Linked DNA regions of Homo sapiens: all the other regions are linked to region 1. Evidence: fine-mapped expression QTL. A gene starts in region 1. Each other region holds a variant in brackets. All regions are shown on one strand. Distances are from middle to middle.

Region 1 (4,205 bases):
TGTAGAGACAAGGCAGGGGGGTCTCCCTTTTCTTCCCAGGCTGGTCTTGGACTCCTAACCTCAAGGGATCCTCCTGCTTCGACCTCCAAAAGTGCTGGGATTACAGGTGTGAGCCACCATGCCCAAATTTGTACATTCTTTTGGTGTACATATAAGAATACATTTGTAAGATAAATTCCAAAATATGAATATCTTGGGTCAAAGAAGAGCTGAATTTTACATTGATAGCTATTGCCCACTTGTTCTTTACAAAGCGTGTATGGATTTATACTCCTATCAACAATAAATTAGCCAGGCATGCTGACGTGCACTCGTAAACCCTGCTATTCAAAAGGATAGTTGAAGTCCAAGAGTTCAAGACCAGTGTGGGTAACATAGAGAGGCCTCCTCTAGGGGAGGAAAAAAGGGTTTCCCTATATCCTCATCAAAACAATATATAGTCAAACTTTTCATCTTTGCATTTGTGAAAAATTGTATTTTATTTTTGTTTTATGATACTTTAAGAAATCATTTGTATTTTTCTGTAGAAACCTGTTTTTCTCTGAGTTGAACATTTTTGTACTGATTTTTTTAATAATTAGAACTTTTTTAATAATTTAGAACTTTTTGTCATACATTTTACAAATATTTTTCTTGGTTGGGGTTTGTTATATTTATTTGCTATGCAGAAAATTTAGATTTCTATGTAGTTACATTTATCAATTTTTATTTATTTATTTAGAGACAGAGTCTTGCTCTGTCGCCCAGGCTGGACTGCAATGGCGCGATCTCGGCTCACTGCAACCTCTGTCTCCCAGGTTCAAGTAATTCTCCTGCCTCAGCCTCCCAAGTAGCTGGGATTACAGGAACCCCGCCACCACAACCGGTGAAATTTTTGTATTTTTATTAGAGACGGGGTTTCACCATGTTGGTCAGGCTGGTCTCAAACTCCTGACCTCAGGTGATCCACTCACCTCAGCCTCTCCAAGTGCTGGGATTACACGCGTGAGTCACCGTGCCCGGCCTACATTTATCAATTTTTAATTTTATGGTTTATATGCTCTTTGAAAAGTCTCTCACCACTCCAACCTTACTTTTGTTTTTTTCCCTTGTTTTCTTCTGGTATTTTCATAACCTCTCTCTTTTTTTTTTTTTTTTTTTTTGTTTTTTGAACATTTAACTATTTGCTTTGTTTGGAATTTACTTTCATGTGAGGACATCAAATAGATCCAGTGTTTTCCTCCGACATGCCTCGACTGGCAGGAGACCAAAGTTTTCATTCTATTACTAGAGAGTAGCTATAGTTACAGAATCAGGTATCCTGAGAGAGATCATTTATGCCCAGGATGAATAACTTGTCTTATCTATTAAATCTATTAAATCCTTTGGAGATTTCACTTTTTTTTTTTTTTTTTTTTGGGACGGAGCCTGTTACCTAGGCTGGAGTGCAGTGGCGCGATCTCCCAGCTCACCACAAGCTCCGCCTCCCAAGTTCAAGCGATTCTCCTGCCTCAGCCTCTCGAGTAGCTGGGATTACAGGCATGTGCCACCACCACGCCCGGCTAATTTTGTATTTTTAGTAGAGACGGGGTTTCTCCATGTTGGTCAGGCTGGTCTCGAACTCCTGACCTCAGGTGATCCGCCTGCCTCAGCCTCCCAAAGTGCTGGGATTACAGGCGTGAGCCACTGCGCCGGCCCCAAAATTTCAGGTTTTGATAGACGGAATGGGTGAAGAAAATGAGAGCTAGCAAGGAAGAACAGGATGCAGAGGCAAGACTGGAAACTCTCCAAGAAAGGTTAACTTTTCTTAACTCACAAGTTAAACAAAGGCTGCAGGCTCCATGCGGAGCTCAGGCACCCAGCGGTGACCGATCCAGACCAGGTCCTCCCGGAAGCCCGGCCTGCCCGACAGAGCCTTACCACAGAGCCCCCTCAGGCGTCCTCGCCAGGACGGGGCGGAACCCTGTGTAGCTCCCACCCCCGGGACGAAGGCCGCTGCCAGGGCCGCGCAGCCACGCGAGTGGAATCAGAGGAGCCTCGAGGCAAGGAGAGCCGGGCCCCGCTCCCTGCGCCCGTCACCGCCATCCTTGTTGTAGGGAACTCGGCCCCCGAGCCGCCGCCGCGCTCCGTGGGCTCCCAATGAGCCCCTACCCCAGCCACCCGCTGCGTTTGCGCCAGCCTCCCAGACTAGCCTGGGGTGCTGAAATGGGGGCGGGCCCGAGCCACGGGTTGGGGCGGGGTCTGATGCGCGCCCCGCCCCGCAACGCCCCGCCCCCCCGCGCCTACCTCTCCAGTCCGCGCCCTTCGGCGCCCGCCCCGCCAGTCCCCGCCCCTCCTTGCCCAGCCGCTCCCGCCCCTCCCCCGCCTTCCCGCGCGGCCCGCCTCGCCTTCCCCCCCCTCCCGCGCCCCCGCGCGGCCGGCCCCTGGCCTTCCTCCCCTTCCTGCTCCGGGCCCGCCAGTAGCCGGCCGCGGCGGCGAGGGACTAGGACGCGGCTGGAGCGGCGCCGGGAGACGAGGGGCTGAGAGACGGCGGCGGCCGAAAGCGGAGAGATGCTGGGCGTGGCGGCCGGGATGACCCACAGGTACGGGCCGCACCGCGCGGCCCCCGCCACGTCCGCCCCGCAGCTCCCGGCGGGCCTTCGGGCCGGGCCGGGCCGGGCCTGGCGCGGGCGGGCGGCCGGGCTTTCCCCGCGGCCTCCCCCGGTCGGCCGGAGCCCCGACCCCCAGCGCTCGGGTGGCGGCGTGGCTGCGTCCGGGCCCGCGGAGGAGACGGCTGCTGTTCACTCCCGGGTGTCCGCGGTGGCACAGGCGCTGACGCCGCCCCGCTGCTCCGAGAGTTCCATAAGACAAATCAGTATTTGCCGAGCTAATCATTTATCTTCTAGCAGTAGGGATCAGCGGGTCGCAGACGTCTTGGTCTCAGGACCCCTCTTGGGACTAGAGGACCTGGAATGGTGGCTATCTCCATAGACTGTACTAGAAAGGAAAACCGAGACACTGAAGTTACTATTAACTCATTGAATAAATCCGTGGTATGTTAACGTACATACCACATTTTTATGCAACATAGGGTTTTGCTAAAACAAAAGAGTTCGTGGGACGACTGGCGTCCTTTACAGTTTGCGAATCTCTTGAGTTGTCTGACTTAGTAGAGACAACTACGTTCTCCCATCTCCTTTGCAGTTCAGTCTGTTGCGGTATGTTTTTATATGAAGAAAATCTGATCTTACACAGATGTGTAGTTGGAAAAGTGAGTACTGTCTTAATAGCTGTTTCAGATAATTATGGGTATTCTTTATTACTACACCAAAACTACGTAAGTGGAAGTTTCTCAAAGGCTGGTTTGGACGTGGAATCTGAAGCTACTGTCAGCGGACTTTTCACACAGTTTCGTTAAAATTCCTTGGTCTGTCTTGCAGTTTGAATGCAGCTAAAGCTCCTGTCAGTGGCCTTTGCACACAGTTACGTTAAAATTCCTTGGTCTGTCTTGCAGTTTGAATGCAGCTGTTACCCATTGTAACACCATATATTTGTCGTTTGGAAGATATTGGCTCACTGAGTTTGGCAGATCTCAAGCTGACGCATTTCATTAATAGCGCCGAATAACATTCGTTACCATCGCTATTGATTTCATTAGGAAAGTCTTTATGTTAAAAGCCGTCAGATACAAGGTGGTGTTTACAAGTTTTCCAAAATTCTCATTTTCGGTTGAAAGCTTGCTTTTTATCATTGGGAGCAAAATATTGTCAATTGTTTTCCTCAAAGTGACAGACTCACTTTGTTCAGTTTCAAGGAAGTGTCCGGCAATACAGGTTTAAATAACCCTAGTTTGTCAGTTGTTCTTTCCCGTAAAAATGGTATTTCATGACACAAGCAAGTTAATTCAGCTCATCGCTCTATTACAGAAGTGCACGCCTGCCATTTGGTCACAAGTAACAAAAAAGAGTCAAAGCTCAAGATTTGATAACAATAATTTGTACTCCTTCATCATGGACTTTTTTCCTTAAAAAAAAGTATTGACTAGTAAGTTGATATAAAATTTAAAGTATTTGTGAGATATTAAGAATAACGGATATGTAGTGTAATAAAGGAGATAATAGTTTCCTTTTAAGACCTTCAAACCTCTCTGGTCCAGTGTCTCTCCGCATCCTATCCCCTTCCCATCCTGAATTTACCATTAGTAATTTACTTTTTGGAGGGAGAGTAATAAGTTCATTCAAATTATT
Region 2 (4,205 bases), 72 kb before region 1:
AAGTGCTGGGATTACAAGCATGAGCCACCGTGCCTGGCCACTAAATAGATTTTCTAATCCTTTTGTTCTCTCTGCTCATTTGGTTTCTATTTGCATGGAATATCTTTTTCCATGCTTTAACTTTCAGTCTGTATGTCTCTTTACAGGGAAAGTGCATTTTTTGTGGGCAGCACGTAGTCGGATTATGTTTTTTATCCTTTTAGCCAGCCTGTATCTTTTAAGAGGAGAGCTTAACTCCATTTACATGCAGTTATTAATTATATGTGAGCCTTTTTTCTGTCATATTAACGGTTTTCTGGTTGCTTTATATATTCTTTGTTCCTTTCTCTTATTGTTTGTTATAGTGGTTTGCTGTCTTTTTATGGTAGTACCATTTGAGTCCTTTCTCTTCCTTATTTGTGTGTTGCTTTACCACTGAGTTTTCTATTTGTGTGTGTTTTTATGATCATAAATGTCATCCTTTCACTTTCAGGTTTAGGACTTCTTGAACATTTCTTGTAGGTCTGGTCTAGTAGTAATGAATTCCCTCAGCTTTTGCTCGTCTGGAGAAGACTTTATTTCTCCTTCATTTATGAAGGATAATTTTGCTGATTATAGTATCTTTGTGATATGGTTTGGATTTGTGTCCCTGCCCAAATTTCATGTCAAATTGTAATCTTCAGTGTTGGAGGTGAGGCCTAGTGGGAAGTGACTGGATCATGGGGATGAACATGAACTTCCTCCTTGCTTTTCTCATGATAGTGAGTGACTTCTCATGAGATGTGGTTGTTTAAAAGTGTGTAGCATTTTCGCCTTCACTCTCTTCCTCCTGCTCCGACCCTGTAAGATGTGCCTCCTTCTCCTTCCTCTTTGCCTTCTGCCATGATTGTAAGTTTCCTGAGGCCTCCCCAGCCATGCTTCCTATGCAGCTTGAAGAACCATGAGCCAATTTAATCTCTTTTCTTTATAAATTACCCAGGCTCAGATAGTTCTTTACAGCAGTGCAAGATCAGACTAATACACTTTGGCTGGGAGTTTTTCCTTCAGCATTTTGAATATATCATTCTCTTATCTCCAATGAATATATTATTCTCTTTTCTCTTCTCTTTTCTCTGGGTCTGTAAGCTTCCTACTGAGAAACCTGCTGTAAGTCTGATGGGGGTTCCTTTATAGGTGACTAGATGCTTTTCTCTTTGCTGAATTTTTTTTTTTCCTCTTTGCTGTTTTTAGAATTCTCTTTGTCTTTGATTTATGGCAGTGGACTATAAATATGCCATGGAGAATACCTTTTTGCATTGTATTTGTTTGGGGATACCTGGGCCTCCTATATCTGGATATCTACCTCTCTTGCTAGACTTGGTGAGTTTTCATGTATTATTTCACTATTTCACTAAATAGGTTTTCTGGTATTTTTTGGTTTTGTTTTGTTTTCGAGGCATAGTTTCACTCTTGTGGCCCAGGCTGGAGTGCAGTGGCGCAATCTTGGCTCACTGCACCCTCCACCTCCCGGGTTCAAGTGATCCTGCCTCAGCCTCCCAAGTAGCTGGGATTACAGCCATCTGCCACCATGCCCAGCTAATTTTTTGTATTTTTAGTAGAGACGGGGTTTCACCATGTTGGCCAGGCTGGTCTTGAGCTCAGGACCTCAGGTGATCCACCTGCCTCAGCTTCCCAAAGTTCTGGGATTGCAAGCATGAGCCACTGTGCCTGGCCACTAAATAGGTTTTCTTTTTTTTTTTCTTTTTCTTTTTTTTTTTTTTTGAGACAGAGTCTCGCTCTTTCGCCCAGGCCGGACTGCAGTGGCCTATCTCGGCTCACTGCAAGCTCCGCCTCCCGGGTTCACGCCATTCTCCTGCCTCAGCCTCCCGAGTAGCTGGGACTACAGGCGCCCACCACCGCCCCCAGCTAATTTTTTTTTTTTGTATTTTAGTAGAGACGGGGTTTCACCCTGTTAGCCAGGATGGTCTTGATCTCCTGACCTCGTGATCCGCCCGCCTCGGCCTCCCAAAGTGCTGGGATTACAGGCGTGAGCCACTGCACCCGGCCACTAAATAGGTTTTCTAATCCTTCTGTTCTCTCTTTGCTTTGAGATACCCCAGTAATTCAAATAAATATTTGGAGGCCGGGCGCAGTGGCTCACGCCTGTAATCCCAGCACTTTGGGAGGCCGAGGCGGGCAGATCATGAGGTCAGGAGATCGACACCACCCTGGCTAACACAGTGAAACCCCGTCTCTACTAAAAAATAAAAAAAAATTAGCTGGGTGTGGTGGTGGGCGCCTGTAGTCCCAGCTACTCAGGAGGCTGAGGCAGGAGAATGGCGTGAACCCGGGAGGCAGAGCTTGCAGTGAGCCGAGATCATGCCACTGCACTCCAGCCTGGGGGGCAGAGCGAGACTCAGTCTCAAAATAAATAAATAAATAAATATTTGGTCACTTTATGGAGTTGCATA[TGTCACAAAGACTTC/T]GCTTCTTTTTTTTTTTTTTTTTTTTGAGACAGAGTCTTGCTCTGTCGCCCAGGCTGGAGTGCAATGACGTGATCTCGGCTCACTGCAACCTCTACCTCCTGGGTTCAAGCGATTCTCCTGCCTCAAGCTCGTGAGTAGCTGAGATTACAGATGCCCATCACCACGCCCAGCTAATTTCTGTAATTTTAGTAGAGACAGGGTTTCACCATGTTGGCCAGGCTGGTCTTGAACTCATGACCTCAGATGATCCACCTGCCTCGGCCTCCCAAAGTGCTGGGATTACAGGCATGAGCCACCGCATCTGGCCGACTTTGCTCATTTTTAAAAATTCTTTTACCCTTATTTTTTTTTTTGACTATATCAGAAAAAAAAGACCTGTCTTTAAGTTCTGACATTCTTTCTTTTGCTTGATCTAGTCCATTGTTGAAGCTTTTGAATGTATTTTGTTTTTTATTCTATGAATTCTTCAGTTCTAGAATTTCTATGTGGTTCTTTTTTTCTGATATCTATTCTCTGGTAAATTTGTCATTCATATCCTGAATTGTTTTTCTGATTTCTTTGTATTGTTTTTTGGAAACTTTTTGTATCTCACTGAGCTCCTTTAGTATCGAAATTTTGAATTCTTTTTCTAGGATCTTATGAATTTCTTTTAGATTGAGATCTGTTGCTAGAGAATTATTGTGTTCCTTTGGAGATGTCATATTTCCATGCTTTTTAATGTTTTCTATGTCCTTTACCTTGATATCTGTGCATCTGGTATAATAGTCACTTTTTCCAGTTTTTTTAATTTACTTTTGTAGGGAAGAACTTTTTCCTGAAGATGTATCTTTAGTATTGCTTGGGTAGAGCACAGTGGCTTTGATTCTAGGTGGGTGCAATAGCATAGGATCGGTATGACTTATTTGGCTGTAAACAGCATCAGTGGTGTCTGTGATTTCATCAGTGACTTAGGGTGCAGTTGTTAGTGGAGGCTGTGGTAAAGTTTTGCTGGGGCCTGGAATGCCAAGTAGGCCAGTCTTCAGGTCGCAGTGGTGGTAGTTGTGGATTGAGCATGCCTGTCCCTGGGCCCCAGAGTGTGTCTGCTGGCACCAGTGTTAGCAGGCCAATTCTTGAGCCTCCAGGTAGCTTGATCAGGTGCTGGGAATGGCAGCAGTGGGCCAGGCTGTTGGGTGGGTTCTTGAGCCCCTGGGCAGTGGATGTAGCATGGGAAATGGCAACAGCAGTGGTGGGACAACCCTCTGGGTCCTAACTGATCAGCATTGGTTTTGGCAGTGACTGTGATTTGTTGATTGGGCCAGTCTCCATATCCACAGGTGGTGCATGGCAATGAGTGCCAGCTGTGGTGGTAGCAGCAGGTTAAGTGGGCCCTATCTCAGGCCCCAGGTTGAGTGCGCAGGTGCCACTGGTAATGGACTGGGCTGGACAATACCTAGTCCCCTGGACATTGCTCTCAGGTACTGGTAGGGGCTGGAGCCAGGACAGGCTGTGTGCCCTTAGGTTCCTCGGTGGTGCGTAAAGATGCCGGCTGTGGTTTATAAGGGTGGGGTGAGTGTCCCAGGCCACCAGCAGAATGTTCAGGTGGAGACAGCAGCATGTTGTGTCGCTGCGACTAAGGAGAGTGAAGTTGCTTCCCCTGGGAGCAGCCATAGGTAGGCAGCATCACCTGTGCGTCGGCCCACAGCGGTCTTTAGCCACAGCAGCTGCAGGCAGTGGAATTTGTCCTCAGGGTTCATGAGAATGCTCAGCCACCCCTCTGCATGG
Region 3 (4,205 bases), 22 kb before region 1:
GGAGGAACAGAGCTAACCCTGCATAGGACTGGACACAGCAGCCAGACCAAGAGAGGCATCTAGTGAGAAGCAGCTCTTCAGCCCTGGGCCTGGTGCACACATCACTCCTTGGTTTCTAAGAACCAAATTTGGCCCAGCACAGTGCCTCATGCCTGTAATCCCAGCACCTTGGGAGGCCAAAGCGGGTAGATCATGAGGTCAAGAGATCAAGACCATCCTGGCCAACATGGTGAAACCCCATCTCTACTAAAAACACACAAAAAATCAGCTGGGCATAGTGGTGTGCACCTGTAGTCCCAGCTACTTGGGAGGCTGAGGCAGGAGAATCACTTGAACCCGGGAGGCAGAGTCCAGTGAGCCAAGATCACACTACTGCACTCCAGCCCGGTGACAGAGTGAGACTCCGTCAAAAAAAAGCCAAATTCATACAGTCCCTGAGGAGTGGGAACTGATGCACATCTCTTGTATACAATAAGCTATGCTTGTGCTCTGAACGGTGTAAGATTGAGAATTGTATTCCTTTAAAGAAAGTTCGGCAGAACTGTAACTGAATTACTAACAAGGCACTGAGAAGGCATACCATACTTTGTATTCTTTTTAAAGTCCCTGTTAGGTGGTGGTGTAGCTGGAAGTGTATAGTATTGAGGATGTAAAGTTTCCCCTAAAAAATTTTTGGTATTTGGCGAATGGCATAACACATCAAAAAATTGGTTGTATCATATGATTAAATTGCAACGTGATGATTTCAACTTGGTGGAAGACTTCTGCTTCGTCTTGGTATCTGAAAATCCCCTTTGCTTCAAACTTAATACACACCAAGGAGAACAACCTGATACAAGTTTGCAAGTGTCTTTGAGCTAATGGTTTTTCGTGGGTATTAAAAAGCATTGGGTTATTTATGTATAATTACGTAGAAAGAAAATGTTCCATTCAAGATACGGTTACACGAAAAGGCATCTAGTTGGGACCTTCAAATTATTACTTATATACCTACAGAAAATTCCTATAAATAGGCCGGGCGCGATGGCTCACACCTGTCATCCCGGCACTTAGGGAGGCCAGGGTGGGCAGATCACCTGAGGTCAGGAGTCCAAGACCAGCCTGGCCAATATGGTGAAAACTTGTCTCTACGAAAAATACAAAAATTAGCCAGGCATGTTGGCCCATGCCTGTAGTCCCAGCTACTCAGCAGGCTGAGGTAGGAGAATCACTTGAACTCGGGAGGGGAGGCTGCAGTGAGCCAAGATCACACACCACTGCACTCCAGCCTGGGCAACAAAGTGAGACCCCCATCTCAAATAAGGAAAGAAAATTCCTATGAAGAAACACTATACCTCTGAGTTTCAATAATAGAGATGATTAACCCAGTTTCCCTGCAAGGATGTGCTCACTGTGAACAGATGTAGTGGTTACCACTCCAGATGTCTGCCTAGCATTTGAGACAACAGTCCCTGTCACCCCTGCCTCTCTCTGGGAACTTCTGCCCCACCACCATACAGAGGGGCAGTAGGCCCAGCCATAATCAACTGAAACAGATACAGAGTTATGACCTGAGCCTAGGCAATTAGGTTTTCTCAGGAATATGGATCTGGGACTAAAGAACTCAGCATCTTCCTGTGACTGGAATTGTAGCATGTAAGTACAGAAGCTTTGGAGTGCCCAGAAAGAGCAGAGAAAGCCAGCCAAGAGAGTGCCAGGTTTAAGTTGACAGAAGAGGTCAACAAAATCGTGAAGTGAGTGTTCTGGGGACCTGAGAGTCAAGGGACTGGATTCTGTACAATGTCTCTGCATCATCATAGTAAACTTTCTACACATGCTTTGAAAGTAAATATCAGATAATTTGGAGCACAGTATAATGGTAAAGTATAAAATGTGAACTTACACAAGTACACCACAATTTCCGCCTCACTGACGAATAACTTGGGGCATGTTCTTCTTGACTGCTCGGAGCCCCCATTTCTTTATCTGTAAAAAGGAAATAAATTACATAGCTGTGAGTTATTGGATGACATCATAAAACCCAGCACAGAGGGCTGGACGCGGTGGCTCACGCCTGTAATCCCAGCACTTTGGGAGGCCACGGTGGGCGTATCACGAGGTCAC[G/A]AGATCGGGACCATCCTGGCTAACATGGTGAAACCCTGTCTCTACTAAAAATACAAAAAATCAGCCAGGTGTAGTGGCGGGTGCCTGTAGTCTCAGCTACTTGGGAGGCTGAGGCAGGAGAATGGCGTGAACCCAGAAGGCAGAGCTTGCAGTGAGCCAAGATTGCACCACTGCACTCCAGCCTGGGCAACAGAATAAGACGCCATCTCAAAAACAAACAAACAAAAAAAAGCCAGCACAGAGTAGGCATGCCAGCATTCTCTCCCTTCTCAGCCTGCAAAAAGATTTATCAATTTACCTCATTTTCTTCTGTTCCTTGTTCTGACCTCAGTGCATGACCCATAGCACCAAGTGTTACTGTCGTTTATGAGTGAACAATTGAGTTAATAAGGAAATAAATTGAATGTTTTCTAACATTTTGACCTTAACTTATTTTTTAAAACTTTGTACCTCCCAGAGCTGGGAAGAGATTCCAGATTTCCCGACTTAGTCCAGAATGATGACTAATGCTGGACTTCGTCTATAGCTCTTATTGAAATGTCAGAAAACATTTTTTTCCCCAAAAACTATTAACTGATAAATTTATAGCATCAAACTGCATTTTTTAAAGGAGGCTTTTTGTTTTTTCTTTTTTGAGAGAGAGAGAGTCTTGCTCTGTCAACCCAGGCTGGAGTGCCTTGGCATAGTGTCAGTTCTCTGCAATCTCTGCCTCCCGGTCTCAGGTGATTCTCCTGCCTCAGCCTCCCAAGTAGCTGGGACTACAGGTGTGCACCACCACATCCAGCTAATTTTTGTTTGTTTGTTTTTGGTAGAGACGAGGTTTTGCCATGTTACCTAGGCTGATCTTGAACTCCTGGACTCAAGTGATCCACCCACCTCGGCCTCCCAAAGTGCTGAGATTTCAGGTGTGAGCCACCACACCTGGCCAAAAGAGACTTTTTTTTTTTTTTTTTTTTGAGACGAGTGTCGCTCTGTCGCCAGGCTGGAGTACAGTGGCATGGTCTCAGCTCACTGCAACCTCCACCTCCTGGGTTCAAGTGATTCTCCTGCCTCAGCCTCCGGAGTAGCTGGGACTACAGGCACGGGCCACCACGCCCGGCTAATTTTTTGTATTTTTAGTAGAGATGGAATTTCACTGTGTTAGCCAGGATGGTCTTGATCTCCTGACCTCGTGTTCTGCCCACCTTGGCCTCCCAAAGTGCTGGGATTACAGGCGTGAGCCATCGCGCCCAGCCCATGCGCAGCTAATTTTTTTTTTTTTTTGGATTTTAGTAGAGACAAGGTTTCACCATGTTGCCCAGGCTGTTCTTGAACTCCTGAGTGCAGGCAATCCGCCCACCTCACCCTCCCAAAGTGCTAGGATTACAGGTGTTTGGTTTTTTGTTTGGTTTTCAAGCAACCTTTCTAAATTTTGCTATGCTCACTCTTTCTTCACATGTTGGTACTGGCTAGATACAGATTTTGCTTTCCTATTGGAGACTTTTGAGAGCTGGCTATCCCCTCTTGCTCCTTTTCTTTTTTCTCTTCCCTACTTCCAAGTTTCTTGCTCTTTTTCTTACCCCATAAGTTACCAGAAATTCATACGCCCTTGAGAGCGCTTTTTGTTTGAACTTCAGTCTTTGGTTTCATCAACTTTTCTAAGGAAATTGATCTGTTAATGAAAGTTGGCTTGCTTGACTTCAGAATATCTGTATTATTCAGTGATATGTGTTTTTCTGGTTGCTTTGTTTGAGCACAGTGTAAATATCACCCATTGCATAGCTTTGGCAGTGACATAAATCTAGCAGCGTAAGATTGAGAAAAGCTAGAAGTCCCACCACAGATTGTATTTCAGTGAAAGGGATTCTTTTTAACTGCTTATAAAACTAAAGAAAACTTATAAACATGGAAAACAATTATTAAACCCACCATATGCTCATACTGATATTAAATGGTGTGCCGGATTCTAGTAAGAGTTACCTTTTGGTAAGAGCACTGCTTGTTAACTATAGTTGATTGCTTTAGATGTCTAGTGTGTACACAAAAGCATGAATTTTATTCCTTATAACCAAAGTAGAAACCTACTCTGAGCAATTTGACAAAAGGTTTACATTATTTATTTT

Alleles and levels. Alleles are on the strand shown, and positions count from the first base shown. SD is a standard deviation of normalised expression in the study named. Not every link is listed here.
For the expression in tibial nerve of the gene that starts at base 2,186 in region 1, A is the low allele of the variant in region 3 and G is the other (moderate effect, 0.45 SD a copy in GTEx).

What was found. PIP is the estimated chance that this variant, and not a neighbour inherited with it, causes the effect. A credible set is the group of variants that fine-mapping cannot tell apart.
Region 2: its variant is the best candidate, but not a certain one, in a credible set for the expression of GCC2-AS1 in lymphoblastoid cells (GTEx, PIP 0.50).
Region 3: its variant is the best candidate, but not a certain one, in a credible set for the expression of GCC2-AS1 in tibial nerve (GTEx, PIP 0.59).

The regions. Positions count from the first base shown.
Region 1 is chr2:108,532,034-108,536,238 of GRCh38, forward strand. It overlaps GCC2-AS1 (GCC2 antisense RNA 1), which reads right to left and starts at 2,186. Exons shown (of 3, transcript NR_135290.1): 1 at 1,796-2,186. LIMS1 (LIM zinc finger domain containing 1) reads left to right here and starts at 2,437. Exons shown (of 10, transcript NM_001193483.3): 1 at 2,437-2,561. The coding sequence starts at 2,530. RefSeq lists silencers at 1,300-1,594, 2,083-2,682.
Region 2 is chr2:108,460,112-108,464,316 of GRCh38, forward strand. All of the region lies in intron 4 of GCC2 (GRIP and coiled-coil domain containing 2), which reads left to right. Among named protein-coding and RNA genes, the nearest start is that of GCC2, 13 kb to the left of the region's middle. RefSeq lists an enhancer at 863-932. The variant TGTCACAAAGACTTC/T (reference allele first, on the strand shown) is at 2,430.
Region 3 is chr2:108,510,048-108,514,252 of GRCh38, forward strand. It overlaps GCC2-AS1 (GCC2 antisense RNA 1), which reads right to left. Exons shown (of 3, transcript NR_135290.1): 2 at 1,883-1,965. Among named protein-coding and RNA genes, the nearest start is that of GCC2-AS1, 22 kb to the right of the region's middle. The variant G/A (reference allele first, on the strand shown) is at 2,104.